2 linked regions of the Homo sapiens genome follow. The protein of the gene in region 2 purifies or fractionates together with the protein of the main gene of each other region. This does not show direct contact. Each region holds a gene or a part of one and is shown on either strand. Other genes may lie near its edges.

Region 1 (3,500 bases), about 83 Mb from region 2:
TGTTCAAGTCCTTATATAAATTGTATCGTATTTGCATATAACTTATGTGCATCCTTCTGTATAACTTAAATCATCTCTAGATTACTTACACCTAATACAATGTAAATGCTATATAAATAGGTACACCATATTTAGGGGACAATAACAAGAAAAAAAGTGTGTACATGTTCAGTACAGATGTAGCTATCCATTTTTTTCCCTGAATATTTTTGATCTGAGGTTGCTTGAATCCACTAAAGTAGAACCCATGGATACAGAAGGCCAACTGTAATATGAAATCCTGTGTTTTAAAAGTATGTCTTTATATATTCAAGTAAAAAAAAATTAGATTTACCATAATATCCATGTAGCTGAATTCATAATGTATACTTTTTAAAGACAACTTGTTTTTCTCTCTCAGTTACAAAAGTAGACTACAAATATCTAACCCACTAAAACAGCCTTAATCTATATTTTAAGATTAGAATCCAGGTAACCTGGCTTTGTATTCTACTGACTATGCCATTCAATACAATGAAACCTTCTGAAGGTCTAAGTATTAGTCATTTATTCACATCCTACTCTCTAAGAATAACCAAGTGGCAACCCACAACATTTTCAATAACATCATTAAAATAATGTTTACTTTCTGGCAGATATACTACAACTCACTAACATTTTTAATGGTTTTGCTCTTTTATAGTTACCAGACTGGGCTATTTACTTAAATAATGATTATTTACTCACCTTCATCCTCACTATCTTCTGCAGTTACATTGCCTTCACTGGTAATGGCTTCGTCATAACTATCCTCAGTCTGAGAGTCTGTAATTTCACCTTCCTCTGGTTCACTATCAGTCTCCATGATTTTCTCATCTTTAAATGATGTTGAATTAGAGATGTTTTCATGAAGAGGAGACTCTATAGTATTTCCACTAGTTGGAACAGTGACTTTGGGGGGACTATTTTTGTGATGAATGCCTATTTTGGCCTTCTTTTTCATATTTGCGAAATTTTCTTCCTCATTGCAGCTTGTATGTTCAACACTGAAGGCTTTTTGATCCTCTGAGTTCAAATCCTGGAGAAGGGTGGGTAGATACGAGGGAACAGGGGAGAATACTCTTAAACATCACTATCTTATAACATTACATCAAGTTTCAACGAATTCGTGAAGATATGTGTCAGTAAAATAACAATGGTTACAATCTGTTCCCCCTCTCCTTCTCACATTTCCTTTCTTGGTTAATGATATTACCATCTTCTTATTATCCAAATTAAAAATCCTATAGTTATCTCTGAGATCCCCTTAACCATATATAAAATTACGAAGTGCTACAGACTTTTCTCAAAATATATCCAAATCTGTCTCTCTATTCTCAATGTCTTAACATTCCTAGTTCAGGCCCTCATCACATACTGCCTGGACTATGGGATAGCCTAGACCAATGGTGTCCAATAAAAATGTAACACAAACCATATTTGTACTTTTACATTTTCTAGTAGCCACATTTAAAAAGTAAAATTATTAATGAGATAGTTTACATAGTCTGCAACATCCAGAGTGTATTTTACACTTAACAGCACATTTGAGTTTGGATTAGCAAAACTTCAAGTGCTCAACAGCCACATGGAGCTGCTGGCTACCTTACTGGATAGTGCAGGCCTAAAGAATACCTATTCTAAATTTTCTTTTTAAACTGGTAATCAATTAGCTAGTCAACACAAATAAAATACAGAATTAGCTTTACTTATGACATGAATTTAAAGATCCAAATGTACTCAATATGTAGCAAAATTGTAGTTTTGCTAAAATTTAGTACTTCAGATTCAGCTTGATAATACATAAAAGTTTAAAGTACAAATTAACTGTGACTATCTTATTCCAAAATTTTAACTTGCCTGGCATAAGTCTTTTATTATTTATTGTACATTTATAGTTGATATGCCTTATAATAAATGAACATTTTTTAATTAACAAAAATGATGTATTTTTATCATGTACAACATGAAGTTTTGAAATACGTACACAATGTACAGTGGTTAAATTGAGCTAATTAACATGTACATTACCTCAAATACTTATTTTTCTGTGGTAAGAAACTTAAAATTTGCTCTCAGCAGTTTGCAATAATACAACACATTGTTATTAACAATAGTCACCGTGTTATACAATGGTCAAATCTATCATTTCAGCCTTAGAAAAAGTAAATAATTATTTTCCATTTTTTTCCCTTGGTTTCTAACGCACTCTCACTTTTCTTTCTACCTCAGAGCAACATGAGGCGAATTCATATGCTCTTCTGTTATTTTATAAAATATGAGAGCATCTCACACACCTTTCTTTCTTTTTTTTTTTTTTTGAGACGGAGTCTCGCTCTGTCGCCCAGGCTGGAGTGCAGTGGCGCGATCTCGGCTCGCTCCAACCTCCACCTCCCAGGTTCAAGAGATTCTACTGCCTCAGCCTCCCGAGTAGCTGGGACTACAGGCATGCGCACCACCATACCCAGGTAATTTTTTTATTTTTAGTAGAGATGGGGTTTCACCATGTTGGCCAGACTGGTCTCGATCTCTTGACCTCATGATCCATCCACCTCACATACCTATCTTTGATAACAGCGTAAGTTCAGCTTGGAGACTGGCTAAACATTCACAGTGTGATAAATTATACACACTTCTAGCAATACAAATTCACCCAGAACAAGAACAAGGGCAAGGAGCTGAAAAACCATGAGGAGCTTTTACATTATAAAATTATAGCAAAAAAGTTCCCTATCTGTATATACTCTTAAAAAAGCAGTTTCCAATCTTGTATATTTATTACTTACTGAACAACATATGCAGGGAAAGCTATTTGCCAGTACAGAACATTAGATAGTCATTAAGTGAAAAGAAAGGAGGGCTTATTTATGGGCACTGAGGCACATATGTATATTTCAAATTATTTACTCCTATCTCCCCTACTGTCTTCCTTCCACATAACCTTCACCTACAAAAAGTGAGGCTCAAAAATATCTTTAAAAATAAAGAAAACAGATGAAGATACTCTCTTGGCCTCACAGGTACCTTTTAGAATCCTCAGGAAATTCTCAAAATTCCAACAGGATTTTTCTTAAAAGTTCTTGTCGAGTGCTCAATGGTGCCCAGGCTGGAGTGCAGTGGCGTGATCTCGGCTCACTACAACCTACACCTCCCAGCCGCCTGCCCTGGCCTCCCAAAGTGCCGAGATTGCAGCCTCTGCCCGGCCGCCACCCTGTCTGGGAAGTGAGGAGTGTCTCTGCCTGGCCGCCCATCGTCTGGGATGTGAGGAGCCCCTCTGCCTGGCTGCCCAGTCTGGAAAGTGAGGAGCGTCTCCGCCCGGCCGCCATCCCATCTAGGAAGTGAGGAGCGTCTCTTCCCAGCCGCCATCACATCTAGGAAGTGAGGAGCGTCTCTGCCCGGCCGCCCATTGTCTGAGATGTGGGGAGCGCCTCTGCCCCGCCGCCCCATCTGGGATGTGAGGAGCGCCTCTGCCCGGCCGAGAC
Region 2 (3,500 bases):
ATTCAAGTCACCACCTAAATTTTTATATATTTAAAATGAATAACTTTAAATTAATTTATTTCAGAAAAGGTCACTGAACAAACCTATCTCTTTGGGATTCCTTGTAGCCCTAGACCTATTACTCTATAAAGAGCAGGAGTTACACAGTGTTTGAACCAGGCATTAATGTAAACTGAGCCAAATGGCATCAGTAGTAAATTGCAGGGAGCAAGCCCTGACAAAAACAAGCAGTTGCCACAGAACTCTAGATGACTGACTCTTACCAGGCAGGCGTGGGGTTACCATATATTACAATATTCAAGAAAAGATGAAATCCAGATTTTTATATGAAATCTTATAATTTTAAAATGATACCTCTAATTAAAAAAAAAAGGCAGTGTGACTATGACTTCAAAGGAATAAGGGTGAATAGGTCAAATCATAACAGTAAAAACTGAAGTTGGGTTAAAATAAAATAAAATTTTCTGAAACAAATTATCCATTCCCTTTCTACTACTCCCAAATGCTATGGGAGGCAACTATAAAATAGGTTCATGGGCAAGCTATAGCTTGGGGCCATACATTTCTAACCTCACAAAACCAAAAGCTTTGGACACTAATCTGTCTTCATGCTTCCAATATCTTTTGCTACCTAAGTCAGGGAGTAAAGGACCAATATAAGAATCAAATAAGAAGAAACTGCTGGCAAGTATGGCTAGCACACTATTTCCTTTACTCAATATTACAATTATAAAGGTAGCCTATACAGTAGTACTACTATTATAAAAATGCTACCATTTTTAAAGTGCTTCAAGATTTGAAAAGTAGAGCTGCTAGAGATACAGCAAAAGGACGATTCTTTAAAAACCCCAGGAAAGCAGGGAATTTTGCTCACCAAATCAACTTTGGCATACTCTTCAACAATTTTCATGTGTTCTTCTGGATTGTAGCCATTCCACCGATCCCTCTTCCCATCATAGTCAAACATCAGTTGAGGCTGGACATGTTCATCTGGAGCTATATTAGTACCTGTAAATTTGGCTCCAACTCGCCTAGGTCTCTAAAAACAGAGTAAGATTTAATCTTTTCCTAAGTTTTTATGGCCCAAAGGAAAACTTCATACAACTTTTACAGAGTGGGCACTTTACGATCTATTCAATTTACAGTTAGTCTTACAGTAGAAAATTTTGTTGGTGTTGAACCAATTCCACTGAAACTAATTTTTATTTAACTTGTACCTAAATATAGGTGATTTCAGAAAAAGAGAAGTTAGCTCTCTGACAAAGAAAAAAGAAAGACTCTGACAACGGTTTTCAAAATTTTCAAAGGTGAACTTACCTCAAAGCAGTCTTTCTTTTTGTGTGTCATGGCCCCACAATTTTCACATGCTCCTTTGCGGTACTTAGTAATTATGGAATTCTATAAATATATATAAAGAAAAACAAAAATGTCTTAACCACGTAAGTTAGAAATAACTTTGACTCTCATTACTATTTTGTCTAGGGAAATGATTTCTTTGTTAAAAGGAAAATAAGTTAGAGTCTCCACACATTTATAAATGTGAAACTTTAAAGAGTTCAGGAGTGTAAAATTTATATAAGAAACACAAAGATAAAATAGTAATGCACTGTGAATTTCAATACCAGATAAAGGGTTTTATTATCTGTTTCTACTTTAAATAGTATTGCATTAAAAATTCTTACATTAAGTTCTTAAACTCTCCATATCCATGAAGATGTATACAGGTTGCCTACATACCTCTTTTACACCCCTCTTGTACCATTCTCCAGATGAGCTGAACTGCTTTTGTTTTTCTGGTTGTGGTCTCTGGTGTTTTAAAGTAGGTCTTTTTGAAGGATCAATATACCATGGCACTGAAGAAATATACTGAGGAATATGGGGGTTGATGTCTCTGTAATTAAAGTAAAAAAAAAAAAAATTTAAGGATAAAATTGGAAAATAATCAGTATTACAATTACAAAGGTAGCTTATACAAAATCTAAGAACAGAAATATTGCAGTGGTAGGGGGAAGAGAACAAGGTTGCTATCTCTATACTATAATAAAGAATAATTAAAAATAAAGAAGTAATTTATTTTAGAGTGAAAATATTTCCAACTAAGAAACTAAGAATAGTGATATAACTGAAGGGGGACAAGAGAGGAAGGAAAATAGAGATGTGTGTTAGTAATCTAAATCTTCTATCACAAGAAGTTTTGGTTCAAATAATGTCTATAGTCAATTAATTAAAATAATTGTGTAGGTATTATTATCTAGAGATGTGACGGTAACAACCAGAAAAACTCAAAATAGAAAGATTTCATAGCAGTCACTTCTGTAGAGCAGGCCAGGGGTGGGAACGGTAAAAAAGGACTGTTGCTATTCATTATAAGCCCTTCAACATAATTTCATTATTAAACCATATGCATATGAGTTTGATAAAATAAAAAACAAAAATGACATAAATGAAGAGAGGTTCCTCTCAAAGGATGAAAAATTAATAAACTAAGTAGACATGAATTTGAATTCTGAATGAATGGATCATACAAAAAATTAAGTACTTACTTTCCTTCTTCATCAACTTCTGCAGGAGCATTGCCCAATTTTCGCTGTTCTTCTAGCTCCTTCTTCTTTCTCCAGTCCTCTCTGGTCATCTTCTTTGGTTCTTCCAAACTCATTTCTTTGGACCCCGATAGGGGTGCAGCATTAACTGCATCTACAACTGTGGCTGACATGGTTATCTGGCCTCCTCTAGGAAAAGAAGTGAAACTTACAGTAAAAAGTAGGCCTTCATGAATTCACTCAAACTACCAAAAATACATCCTAATAATATATACTGTTTCATATGTTTTTTTTTCTCCTATATTATGTGTAAGGAAGGGTCTCTTCCCCCTCCTCAAGGTCTCTACATACTGTTAGCACTGTTTCTCTCTCAACTCCAATTTACAAATGGAGAGAGACACACACGTGTATTTAAAATTTCACAGGACTCTTTTCTCATATCCATCCTTAATCCCTCTTTCTGTGTATGTCTCAAACTTTTCTAACACAGTAACTCTTAATGAGAGAAAAGAGGGTCCTATCTCTGTACCCCTTCAAGAATGAATATCTCAAGAGTTATCTATATTCACTGCCTCCATTTCCTCACCTTCTATTTTCATCCTCACTCACTCTAACTTAGCCCTCCATTCCCTACCATTCTAAAGAAAAGAGTTACATCATTAAGTCATCAAGGACCATTGTGCTAAATCCAATGGACATTTTTCAGCTCTGTTCCTTCCCTTTTTATATATTATGTCTTGACTTCCCTGACACTACATTCTCTTGGTTTTTCTTTTTCTTTTTTTTTTAGAGACAGAGTCTCGCTCTGTTGCCCAGGCTGGAGTGCAGTGGCATGATCTCAGCTCACTGCAACCTCCGCCTCCCAGGTTCAAGCGATTCTCCTGCCTCAGTCTCCCGAGTAGCTCGATTACAGGTGCCCGCCACCATGCCCGGCTAATTTTTTCGTATTTTTTGTAGTGA

Evidence for each region. Proteins that work in one complex are often made in the same cells at the same time.
Region 1: the proteins of SLU7 (region 2) and AGGF1 purify together in Homo sapiens (affinity purification with mass spectrometry; one large-scale study listed by BioGRID and IntAct). This does not show direct contact.

The regions. Positions count from the first base shown.
Region 1 is NC_000005.10:77,043,904-77,047,403, reverse strand, and holds part of AGGF1 (angiogenic factor with G patch and FHA domains 1), read right to left. Parts: intron 1,058-3,500; coding exon 727-1,057; intron 1-726. UniProt on the Homo sapiens protein: Promotes angiogenesis and the proliferation of endothelial cells. Able to bind to endothelial cells and promote cell proliferation, suggesting that it may act in an autocrine fashion.
Region 2 is NC_000005.10:160,412,582-160,416,081, forward strand, and holds part of SLU7 (pre-mRNA-splicing factor SLU7), read right to left. Parts: intron 2,730-3,500; coding exon of another isoform or gene 2,714-2,729; coding exon 2,544-2,713; intron 1,892-2,543; coding exon 1,738-1,891; intron 1,399-1,737; coding exon 1,318-1,398; intron 1,040-1,317; coding exon 875-1,039; intron 1-874. UniProt on the Homo sapiens protein: Required for pre-mRNA splicing as component of the spliceosome. Participates in the second catalytic step of pre-mRNA splicing, when the free hydroxyl group of exon I attacks the 3'-splice site to generate spliced mRNA and the excised lariat intron.